Linked DNA regions of Homo sapiens: regions 1 and 3 are each linked to region 2. The links come from fine-mapping of genetic effects on gene expression. A gene starts in region 2. Each other region holds a variant in brackets. All regions are shown on one strand. Distances are from middle to middle.

What was found. PIP is the estimated chance that this variant, and not a neighbour inherited with it, causes the effect.
Region 1: its variant is the best candidate, but not a certain one, in a credible set for the expression of TGM2 in whole blood (TOPMed, PIP 0.52).
Region 3: its variant is the best candidate, but not a certain one, in a credible set for the expression of TGM2 in subcutaneous fat (GTEx, PIP 0.60).

The regions. Positions count from the first base shown.
Region 1 is chr20:38,134,220-38,138,219 of GRCh38, reverse strand. It overlaps TGM2 (transglutaminase 2), which reads left to right. Exons shown (of 13, transcript NM_004613.4): 10 at 1-107. Among named protein-coding and RNA genes, the nearest start is that of TGM2, 29 kb to the left of the region's middle. The variant G/T (reference allele first, on the strand shown) is at 2,080.
Region 2 is chr20:38,163,122-38,167,121 of GRCh38, reverse strand. It overlaps TGM2 (transglutaminase 2), which reads left to right and starts at 1,852. Exons shown (of 13, transcript NM_004613.4): 1 at 1,852-1,933. The coding sequence starts at 1,924. RefSeq lists a silencer at 1,560-1,999.
Region 3 is chr20:38,113,271-38,117,615 of GRCh38, reverse strand. LOC124904899 (a long non-coding RNA gene) reads right to left here. Exons shown (of 2, transcript XR_007067580.1): 2 at 2,738-2,996. Among named protein-coding and RNA genes, the nearest start is that of TGM2, 50 kb to the left of the region's middle. The variant A/G (reference allele first, on the strand shown) is at 2,580.

The DNA of each region.
Region 1 (4,000 bases), 29 kb after region 2:
CGTCTGCCGCCTCCTGCTCTGTGCCCGCACCGTCAGCTACAATGGGATCTTGGGGCCCGAGTGTGGCACCAAGTACCTGCTCAACCTCAACCTGGAGCCTTTCTCTGGTAAAGCCCTGTGTTCCTGGAGCATTTGTTGACCGCCAACTGACAACATGCTAGGTAGTGACCTAACCACTTAGCATGTGTGATTTCACCCCACAGACACTTACATGGCGCTGACTCTGGGGCAGGCCCTGTCCTAAGCACTTTATAAATATCAACCCACTTAATTCTTATTGCAAGAGTGAGGGGGTGGATTCTAACATGGCTCCGTTTTCCAGATGAGTAGACTGAGGCACAGAGAGGTTAAGTAATTTTCTTAAGGTTGCACAGTTGGGGAGTTAACCTGTCCTCACAGCAGCTATACTGTTTGGTTTCACCTCATCTTCGTGTGACCCCTGACTGCTTTCACAGACCCTCTGCTGCCCTCTCCCAGTGAATTCCACTGTCTCCAGCCCCTCATGCCTCAGCAGCCTCTCTCCATGGGCCCTTCGAGAACCTCTCCTGTGCCTCTGGTTGCTCTCGGCCTCAAAGAAAAGTCTCTAACCCAGCGCCTTGGAAAGTGCCTGTTGCACTTTCCACAGTGATGGAGACGTGCTGAGTCTGCACCGCCTATCCAGCATGGCTGCCACCAGCTGCACGTGGCTGCTAAGCGCTTGAAATGTGGCTGGTGCAACCGTAGAACTAAAGTTTGTTTGTTTGTTTGCTTGTTTTTTTATTTTTTTTGAGATGGAGTCTTACTCTGTTGCCCAGTCTGCAGTGCAGTGGCACGATCTCAGCTCACTGCAATCTCAGCCTCCCAAGTAGCTGGGATTACAGGCGTGCACCACCATGCCCAGCTAATTTTTGTGTTTTTAGTAGAGATGGGATTTCACCATGTTGGCCAGGCTGGTCTCGGACTCCTGGCCTCAAGTGATCTACCTGCCTCGGCCTCCCAAAGTGCTGGGATTATAGGTGTGAGCCACCGCACCTGGCCAAAACTAAAGTTTTAATTGTGTTGAAAGTTAGACAGCCACATGTGGCCAGAAGCTGCTATGTTGGGCAGAGCAGATCGGCGAGCCAAAGGTGGGAGCGTCCAGGCCTCTGCAGGGAGAAGTGCTTTCTTCCTGGACTTGATTGTCCCTCTCCAGTGTCCCCAGCACCAGCCTAGTTGCCTTTTTAGGCAGATCCCCTTCGCAGTGACATGGTGTCATTAGACCACCCAACCCAGCCCCGAGCCAAGACTTTGTCACCAGGCTTCCTGCACAGTGGTTGTCCTCTGGGTCCCTTCCACTGTCTGGCTTTGTCACTGTGCCTGGTTATCTTCCTAAATATAAGCTTGAGGCCCTCAGAGGAGCCGTGGCCACTGAGGTCACATAGCGAGGCAGTGAGGGACCAGGAATCAAGCCCAGGGCTCCGCCCAGCAGCCCCACCACCACCCAGCAGCCCCATCCCACTTTCTGCCATTTGGAGCCCTGCAGGTGTGAGGAGGGCAGAGGGGTTTCCAGGCTAGGAGAGGACCTGGGAGCTGCAGAATGAGACATTGGCCATCCTCTGAGGGGCAGTGGAATCAAGTAGGACATCGTCTTTGGGCAGCATCTCGCTGTGTCACCAGAGCAAATGGCCACTCCCCTGCACCTTAGCGTCCCCATCAGGCTCCTGGGGGTCATGATCCAACAGTGCAGGACCATCGGGGGTAAGAGAGTGTGCACACAGTAGGCACTCATGCCTGGGATTCAGTGTGGCCACACCTGGAGATGCTGGAGAGCCCTCGGGTGGGGCATGGTTTGTGTTTACAGAGTTTGTTTCCCCGTCTGTTTTCCCCGGACTCCTGCCTGTCAAACCAGTGGTCGTCCCTCTCCTCTATGACAGTGCCTGGACCCTTGGTGCCCATGGGCTGGCGTCTGGGGCACAGCTTTCACCCTCCTAAGAAAGCAGGTCTGTGTTGCGGGCGGGGCGTCTGCAGTGTTGACAGTTGCTGCCTCCTGGTTTTTCTATCTTGGGCCCACCGTGGGCACTCCTGGAGCTGCACGCCCTGGGCACACCCACTGTCCGGCCC[G/T]GGGCAGACTCCTCAGCAGGGGCCAGGCCCTCAGAGGGCAGATCCTCTTGGTACCAGGACAGGGCCCAACACTGAAGCTGTTGAAAGACATTTCCCGAGGCCAGGAAGACCTGGCTTTGAATCTCAGCTCTGCTGCCCTCTGAATGCACCACCTTGGGCGCGGTGAACATGCTCTCTGAGTCTTAGGTCATGCTCGCCTGTTACATGGGGTGATGACATGCCTGCCTGATGCGCCCGCAGCCGTGAGGACTGAGGGAGAGGATGCGTGCTCAGGAGGTATCTGGAAAGGGCACAGCAGCACCAGCACACGGTGGGGCCCTCACTCCTCCCTGAGTGCGAGTGCTAAGAGGCGTGGGGAGGCGAGAAGCCCGGGACCTTTCCTGAACACCTTCTGTCCCAGGCAGTGGTGTCAGCCCTGGGCTCGGGGGTTCCTGTGTCCCTGACACCTCGGTGGTGTAGAAAGGACCCGGCCCTCGCTGCTCATCCAGGCCCCGAGAGTCCGAGACAGGATCCATCTCTACAGGCGTGTGGGGGTTCAGGACACAAGGACACCCAAGTTCTAGTTCCTGCTGCCTGCTGCCTGCTGCCTGGCTGTGGGCTCCTGGGTATTCCTCTCCTCCAGCAAGGCTATGGGTTCCCCATTCACACAAAGGGGAAGGTGCTTTCCTCTTTTAAGAGCCCTTCCAGCCCTGTTTTGTGTGTGTGTATGTGTGTGTGTGTGTGTGTGTGTGTGTGTATACATTTAGGAGGTCCAAGTGCGGTTTTGTTACACGGATATATTGAGCAGTGGTGAAGTCTTGGGCTTGACATTGGAGACCCAGTCCCATCGTTTCAGTGCACACCCACCAGCTCCTTCTCGTGCTCAGAGCTGCTCCAAGGGGAGAAAGTGTCTGTCCTAGAATGAGTGGCATGAGGTGAACTCCAGGCCTGGGCCAGACACACCAAAATCACTTCCTCCCAGGCCTCTGTGGAGTCAGCCCTCACCTCTAAGTCACCATCGGGACCCTGAGAGCATTGTTCCGCACTGGCATCAGCCAAGCATGCTGACTTTTCTCATCCTCCCAGGAACATGCTCACCACAGAGGGTGAGCAGCAGGTCCCTCCTGTTGGGGATCCACTGGAGACATAGCCTTCAGGGAGAGGAAGGGGAGGACAGAAGGTCCTGGGCATTGGCCTCTGGCTGGAAAGTGAGGCTGGTCCAAGTCCCCTGTTGGAACCTCCAATGCCAAGCTCAAGCTGAGATGCGTTCCCTCTAAGCCCCCATACTGTGGTTGAGTTACTTGTTATTCTTTGATGATAAGATCTGGGGAATTTCCGTGTGCTGGTGGACAGGAAGCCAGGCCCTGGATGGCTGAAAGGAATCCAGTTGCCCCCACCCCTGCCTCCTTTCTCTGCTGCTTCTTTCTCTTCTCCTTCCTGCCTCCACCCTTTCATGCTCTCTCCTCCCTCATCCCTCCAGGTGGGTCACAGGAATGCAGCCAATGTGGCCTCGGTGACTGTCCCCAGAGTAACCTTCTAGAACAGGGCAAATTGTCTAAAGAATGGTTGAGACTGACCATACAGGTTTCCTCTTCCCAGCCAGCATCTGGCCCAAGACCAAGGCCGTGGCCACTGGCTTGTGGACGGAGACTTTCAAAGGTCCAGCCCTGCCCTGGCCTCCACCTCCTAGAATAGTCGACAGTTGGGCCACATCCTCCAAGCCCCCGGAGGATAATGTTTTTCTTCTTTCCTGTGGAGCTAGCTAGAATTTCCACTCTGCACCACCAGGTCTTGACCTAGTAATTTTCACCCTCTTTTGTCCTTTTTGGCACAAAAGTTTGGTTTTCTTCCCCAGATCACATCATCTGATGAGAGGTTGGAGCAGATCCACCCAGGGAATGAAAGGCCAAAGAGGTGGGCAGGTCGGGGCAGCATTTTCCAA
Region 2 (4,000 bases):
CTCAGGGCCCCAGTTATTGCATGCTCACCACGTATAAGGCACCCAAACTTGGTCATTTAGATTGAGTCTTACTCAGGCCTGTGAGGGAGGGATTCTTTCCCCCATTTTGCAGAGGAGGAAACTGAGGCAAAATCCTGCCCATGGCCACACAGCTGGTCAGGGGCAGAGTGGGAACTTGAACCCCGGCCTCTTGACCGACTTCCCTCTCGGTCGGGTGATTCTCCTCACGCTGCTCTTTCCTCCAAGCTTTCACCAGCTGCAGGGAGCAGTTTCTGCAACAATCTCTATAAAATGGGGCAATTACGGGTCAGCTGGGCCCAACACTCTTTGTGGGTTTGTTCACTGAGACTCCAGCCAGAGCCCGTTTGACCCAGGGAGAAATATCCACTGAAGCAACACGGGTTGTTTTCCCTGAGCCATATGTCACCTAGGAATGGAGACGGGGGCTACTTCTATCTTCCAAATTCATCAATAGATGTAGAGCTTGTTCCGGAATGTACAGCTTGTTCTGGAATGTAGAGCTTGCTCCGGAATGTAGAGCTTGTTTTGGAAAAAGTGCCAGGGAAGCCCCGTGGGCCTCTGTCTCTCCGGGAACCCTTCCCGCTCAGGGCTCACAGTGGATCCGGAAGCACAGGAGACCAAGAGACCAGAGATACCAGGATGAGAGATAGGACCCCTGGTTGCCAGGTTCGAGAAGTCCTAGGCTGAGTCCCTGGAAAGTTAGTCTTGCTCCTTTCTGGCACACAGTGGGGCCTCAAGAAAGCTCAGTGGATGGATGGATTGAGGGAGGGAGGGAAGAGAAGGCCGAGGGAGGGATGGATGAAGGGATGAGTGGATGGATAGGTGGGGGGGTAGGTGATGCATGGGTGAGTGGATGGATGGGTAGATGGATGGCTGATTAGATGGATGGCTGATTAGACAGATACAAGGATGGGTGAGATCGGAGGATTATCTGGGTTTTGCTACAGGAAGGGACATGGGTGTGTCTGTTTTTGCAGGTGTGTCTGCATGTCTGTACCTGAGTCCATGCCTGCATGTGTGTCTACCTCTGAGTAGCCACATCTTTGTGTGTCTGTGGGTGCCCTCTCTGATTTTGCGTCCACATCTGACAGTGGCATTGGTGTCTAGGAGGTCTGTGTGTGTGCCAGGTGCCTCTGGACACCTGCTCATCTGTGTCCACAGCTGTGTGTGGCTCGCGGTCAAGGCTACCTGGCTGTGTCAGGCTGTATCTATGTCCTGGTGTGTGTCTGCCATTCGAATCTGAATTTGTATCCATGTCACTGTGTCTGCGTGGCCAGCCGTGTTTGGTGTATCTGTGGGAGTGTATCTGTGTTTGTGTGTGTATCTCCACAGCCCTGTCTTGGTGTGTCTGCGTCTGCTCTCTGTGTATGTATATCTGAGTATGTGTGTGAGTGTGTGCGTGTGTGTGTGTGTGTGTGTGTGTGTGTGTTGGGGGTGGGGAGGTGTTCTTGATCCCAGATCTGACCTAAGAGTCCACATCTGTGTGTCCAGGTGCACCCCGGTTCCGTTGTGTGTTTCTATGAGGGTGCTGCGTGTGTCTGTATCTGAGTGTGTGTGTCCAGGTGTCTGTTCTCCAAGGTCTGAGTCTGTGGGTCCAGGTGTGTCTGTATCCTGGGCTAGTTGTGTGTCCCTGTCCGCTCCCCCAGGGGGCGCCCTCGTCCGGCCGCCGTCCCTCCCTCGGGCTCCGGTCCCCTGGGTGAGCCCCAGCGCTGGCGGCGTGGGCCCGGGACTGGGCAATGGGTGGCCTCCCAGGTCGCCGCCTTCCCGCGGGGCCCCGCCCCCGGCCCGCCCCAAAGCGGGCTATAAGTTAGCGCCGCTCTCCGCCTCGGCAGTGCCAGCCGCCAGTGGTCGCACTTGGAGGGTCTCGCCGCCAGTGGAAGGAGCCACCGCCCCCGCCCGACCATGGCCGAGGGTGAGTATCAGAGTCACCGCAGCCGCCACTCAGGGGCCCCGGGGCATTGGGGGTCAGGACCCGGTGGGAGCTGAATCCCTAAGTCCTGATTTGGAGAGCAACAGGCAGACCGGGCTGGGTGAGGAGGCGTCTCAATGCTGCTTGGAGCCTCAGTTTCCCCATCCACACTGCATAACCATTAACCCTTGCCTCCCTGGATCAGGTGAGGCAATGGAACGCGACGGGGTGTTGTAAACTGTAAAGTACTGTCCTGGCGGACCACTGGCACGTGTCCTCAGTCAGTCAGTGGGGGCTGGCTCTCTGATGTGTGCCTGGAGCTGTGCAGGGGGTGCTGGCCTGGCCTCAGAACACTTAGGTTTGGGTGGTTCTTGCCAGCCAGGACCAGGTGGTGTGCATGCCACGCCGGTGGTGTGCAAGCCAAGCCTGGCTGAGTCCTTGGCTCCAGCGGCCAGAGAGGAGCTTTCGGCATCCTATCCAGGAGCCTTCGGAAATCAGGCTTGTTCTTCCCGCCCTCACGTTCTGCAACCCTAGACCTTGGCCAATTGTTGAGTCTCACCTATAAAATAAGGACAACAGTGTCCTTATTTTATAGGACAAGGTTTATGAGATTTGTTTTCCCCCAAGACCCCCACCCATCTGTCACCCTGACCGTGCCCTGGTCCTCTGCTCCAGCCTTTGGTGCATCTGTGAGGAACGAGAGGAGTGGAACAGAGGCTTAACTAATTTCATACTGGTGCCCCTGACTCCCTCCCCACACACAAGCAGCACTCTCGTAGGTCCCAGCTGGAGGGATTTCTACAATGGAGGATGTCACTGCTGGACCCAGAATCCCAGCTGGCTCTTGGGTCAAGTTCATCTGGGGATGGCTTCTGCACCCATTGCAACCCCCAGGAAGGGGTGTGGGACAGGGACATGGGGCAGGTGGAGCAGGAATGGGTGGCAGGAACTGTGGACCCACCTGACCCTGCTGTGTGATCTCAGCCACCTGCCTCCCTCGGGCCCAGCTCCCAACACACTGTGATGTGTCGCCTCGGTGGCCGCTTGTCCTCAATGCATCTTCTCACCCCCATGCTCAAAAGCAGGGCTCAGTGGGGCTGGGAGATCCTGGAGATGCCAGTTATGATGAGCCTCCAGCCCCATGTCACAGTGGCCACTTCTGACAGAGGTCTCACTGGCCTAGAAGGCCTAGGCCCTTTCTAAGTGCAGAAATCCTATAAATCCTACAATTCTAGACCTGCATCTTTGGAGCTGGGCGTGATTTCTGGAAACCCTTCTTCGGACAACAGATGGAGAAAATGCCCCAGCTCCCACAGCCCAGGGACTGGCCGTATCTCCAGGGTCTTCCATGGGAACAACAATGGCCTCTTTCCTGCTCAAGCTCCCTGGGTCTGAAGTTTCCAAAAACATTTCCTCGCCGCAATAGGCCAGCAGGAAGTTTTTCCTTCTGGCCACTGAGGTCTCTTCTGTTGTGATTACACGGGGACCGACATCCCTGATACTTCAGTGGCGCAGAACTATCTGCCCCCAGGTTTGAGAACAACACAGGACATGGTGGCGAAGGGGTGGTCATAAGAGGGGCTGGAGAAAAAACTGAGCTGTAGTGAGGTGGTTCCCAGGGCAGAATCCTACAGAATCCTACAGCTCTGGATTCCAATCCCAAAGCAGCCACTTGCTCTGGGACCTGGAGCCACCTGGTGTCTTTGTCTACAAAATGGGAATCATGATAGCATCTATGTAAGCGGAGTTGTTTTGGGATTTAAGTCGAGATAATTCACATACAAGGCACTTTGCATCTCATTTTTGGAATAGTCGATGGTGAGCAGGAGACCTGGGCTCTCCCACTGCAAGGACCAACTTGCGGCGTGACTTTGAACAAATTCCTGCCCCTGGGCCTCACTTGGACCACATGCTGTCCAGTGGCTCCACACTCAGAGTCTGTCTTGCCCACTCCTCCCACCTTAAGGGCTTCCCCATCCTGACCTTGAGCTTGCCAAGGTTTATGAGATTTGTTTTCCCCCAAGACCCCCACCCATCTGTCACCCTGACCGTGCCCTGGTCCTCTGCTCC
Region 3 (4,345 bases), 50 kb after region 2:
ACACAAAATGATTAAATGATGATGGCTTTAGTTTCTACCATGACTGTCCAGTCAAAGGTTTTAAAAGGAGATGAGACTTACCTCCAGATTTGGGAGGATGGGTACAGATAAGTGAGGATTAGCAATCTAGATGGGGCACCGCAGGAAGGAAGGCATGTTACCTTACAAATATCTACTGGGAACAGAAACCATGAAAAGTACCAGCAGAATTAAAAGAGAACCAAATACTGATGGTTGCACAACATTATGAATGTATTTAGTACCACTGAACTGTAAACTTAAAAATGGTTAAGATGGTAAACTTTATGTTACATATTTTTGCAACAATTTTAATAACTGAAAAAATAGAGAAACCCAAATAGAACTTCTAGAAATGAAAAATACAATAACTGAAACATAGAAGTCGATGGTTGGGTTTGATAGAAGATTAAACAGAGCTAAAGAAAAACACGAGTGAGGCAGAAGATAAATGATCCAGAATATAGTACAGAGAAGTAGATAGGTGTTAAACATAAAAGAGAAGTTGGGAGACATGGAAGAGAGGCTGAAAATATCTGACATCTATTTAATAGCAGTTTCAGAAAAATACAAGAGAGAAAATGGGGCAGACACACTAACTGAAGAAATAATGACAGAGAACTTTCCAAAACTGATGAGAGGTACTAATCCACAAATTCAAAAATCCCAACAAATCTCAAGGAAAGTGATAAGAATAAATCCACGTCTAGACATCACAGTGAAGGAGAAAAACATCACAGACAAAGAGAAAAATCTAAGGAGCAACCAGAAAATAAGAAAAATAACCTTCAAAGAAATGACAGAGTGATGAAGACTTCTCAACAGCAACAACAGAGCCAGGTGATAGTAACATGATACATTCAATGTGCTGAAAGAAATTAACTACCCAACTAAAATTCCATGCTCATCAATATGTACTTCAAGAATATGGGTTAAATAAAAGCATGCTCAGACAAAAAAGAATAGAGCACATTCTGCTTGTTGAAACTTGTTACAGTGTACACTTTATGTAGAAGAAATACGAACACTGATGGAAGGCTTGAGATGAAAGGAGAAGTGAAGAACAAAGAAATGATCAATCCATCTGCCAGTCTAGCTGAGCACTGACTACATAAAACAATAACATTAATGTCTTGTAGAGTTTATCTTTTTTAAAAAAATAATTAGAATACACCAAAACCATGGAGTATATGTCAAATTAGAGTAGCAGTGTTCTAAGGCCTGGAAGAAGAGCAATGGTACTGATTATATTTAGACTTCAGTAAGTTAAATATTCATGTTGTAATTTCAATGATAACATTAAAAGAATAAAAACAGTGCATAATCCCCAAACTAGTGGAGAGGGGAAATAGAACGCAAAAGTAATCAGTTCAAAATGGGAAGGAAGGAAGGAAGGGAGAAAGGGAGGAGGCGGTAAGAAGAAAGGAAGGAAGGAGGAAGGGAGGGAGGGAGGGACAGAGGGAGGGGAGGGGAGAAATCACAAAATAAGCTAGTGGGTTTGCACCCATATACATTGATAAATTATATTAAATATCAAAAGACCAAATGCTCCAGTTAAAAGATGAATATTCATGAAGATTAATTAAAGAGAAATGGCACAAAAATATTAGAAATAAAAAATGAACATCACTACAGATGCTGCCAACATTAAAGAAAAAAGAGGCTATTTTGAAAAATTTTGATCCAATAAATTTGAAATTTTAAGTGAAATAAGCAACATACTAGAAGGTATAACATTCCAATTTTGATTTAAGACAAAATAAAAAACCCTAGATAGTCCTTTAACAATTAAATAAATTGAATCAGTTGTTAAAACCCTTCCAGTAAGAAAACTTCAACCTCAGATGGCTTCATTGGTAAGTGCTATCTAACATTCATCTTTGATAATCTCTTCCAGAGAATAGAAAAAGAGTGAATAAACTCCAATTCATTGTATGAGGCTGAACTACCTCGGAGGCTGAGGTGGCGGTATCCCTTGAGCCCAAGAGTTCAAGGCTGCAGTGAGCTATGATCAAGCCACTGCACTCCAGCTTGAGTGACAGAGAATGAGATCCTGTCTCTTAAAAAATGAATAAATAAAAAATGAATATTAGCCTCCCAAAATTCAACATTATTAAAAAATACCACAACCCCCTAGAATTCATTCTTCTCCCTGCAGCCAGAGGGAGTTTCTCAAACATAAATCCAATCATGCATGCCCTTGCCTAGCCATTCAATGTCTCCCTGTTGTCCTTACTATGAGCTGCATGGTCTGGCGCACTCCTGCCTCTCTCTGTCAGTTCCCCAGTCACCCATTCTGCTGTAACCAAACTGGACTTTTTTGATTTCTCAAAATATCCCAAACTCTTTCCCTCTTCAGGGCTTTTGCACAAAGCTATTCTGTGGTGTTCTACTTATTTCTTATACTCTAAAAGTTAGAGACATAACATAGTAATTTATTGCTGGGGATGGTGGCTCACGCCTGTAATCCCAGCACTTTGGGAGGCCGAGGCAGGCAGATCACTTGAGGTTGGGAGTTCGAGACCAACCTGACTAACATGGAAAAACCCCGTCTCTAATAA[A/G]AATTCAAAAATTAGCCAGGCATGGTGGCGGGCGCCTGTAGTCCCAGCTACTCGGGAGGCTGAGGCAGGAGAATTGCTTGAACCTGGGAGGTGGAGGTTGCAGTGAGCCGATATCACACCACTGCACTCCCGCCTGGGTGATAGAGTGAGACCCCATCTCAAAAACAAAAACAAAACAGTAATTTATTATGTTTCCGGGGTTGACTGTGCCCAGTTGAGTGTTTCTTTCTGCAGCTGCAGTCAGATGGGGGCTAGGGCTGCAGTCATCTGAAGGCTCGAGGGCTGGATGGAAGACAGCGCATTCATATGGTGGGCAGTTGACGCTTGCTGTTGGCTGAGAGCCCAGTTACATGGTTGGCCACTCCATGTGGCTTAGAATTCTCCCAGCATGGCAGCTGGATTCCAAGAGGAAGTGGCCTAAGAAACAGAGTCCGAAGAACCCAGAAGCAAAAGCTACTGGAGTAATTAAAGGTTACATCCAGAAATAACACAGCATCACTCCTGCCTTATTCCATTGGTCAAAGCAATCACAGGTCCCACCCAGAATCAAGGCTGGAGAAATAGACTCCATCTCTTGCTGAAGGAGTGGTGAGTCACACTGCATAAGAGTGAATGTGATGGGAGATACTGCTCAAGCCATCTTTGGAAAATGCAGTTTGCCATAGCTAGTCTCTTCTTGTCATTTATGCCTGCCCTTAAATGTTTCATGACTTTCCCTGTCCACCCTATCAAGGGTAGTCACTATGTCATGTCACTCTATTTTAATTTTTGTCATAGCCCGTATTATCATCTGGCATTATGTGATATCATTGTATAATATTTGCCTTCCTACAGCTGAACCTAAGCTCCTTGAGAGTTGGGACTTTGTCTTGCTCAGTGCTATGTTGCTCCTTCCTCATGAGGGCAGGGCGTATGGTAGGTGCCCAGAGACTTACTGAATTATTGAATGAAGCTTCTGGGGGAAGGTTTGCACTCGGCAGGCAGGAAGCTCTTTTGAACATCCAGGGATGAACCTCGTGAGAACAGGCTACTGCACATGTCATTGAGTTCCCTATTACTGGCAGGGTTCATGCAGGGACAGGATGGGCTGCCTCCAGGAGTGCCAGAGAAAGAACCTGGACTCAGAGGGAGAGGCTGGTCCTTCCCCATGCTGGACCTCAGCTCTTCTCACCTTGGGAGCCAGCCTCTCTTCTTACCTTTGGCTCCTCTTCAAGTCAACCTGATCCCTCTGGTTTCTGGGGATAATGAGCCAGGATTTATGGCTCCACTTCAATCCCTAATATTGTCACTGTCCATTCAACCTCCCCTAGGCTCTGCTTTCGCAGAAAACCCACAACGGTTATTTCTCCTCCCTTTCCCCTAACCCCGCCCCACCAGGCTTATCTTCCTATTTCAAGTTTTCTGGCAGAGAACACGGCTCCCCCATGTGGTGGGCATTGGGCTGGAGGCCTCTCCACACACAAACTTGAGGGAGGTCACTCTGTTAGAAGCCTCCAAAGGCGCCCCATTGCCTAGAGGAATGTTTTCTCCATACCACAGGCCCTTTGATTAAAGCGAATCCTTCCTTGAACCACCACAACCACCACCACCACCACACTGAGCTCTCACTGTGTGCCTGGCACTGTGTTCTGAGCTTTGCCTGTTTGACCTCACTGAATTCTCCATAATTCCTCAGGAGACAGGGGTTATTATTGGCTCCTCAGGTCACACGGTATGGGGACTTGGGACTGGAACATTCTCTGTTCAGACCACACATTTGTGAAACA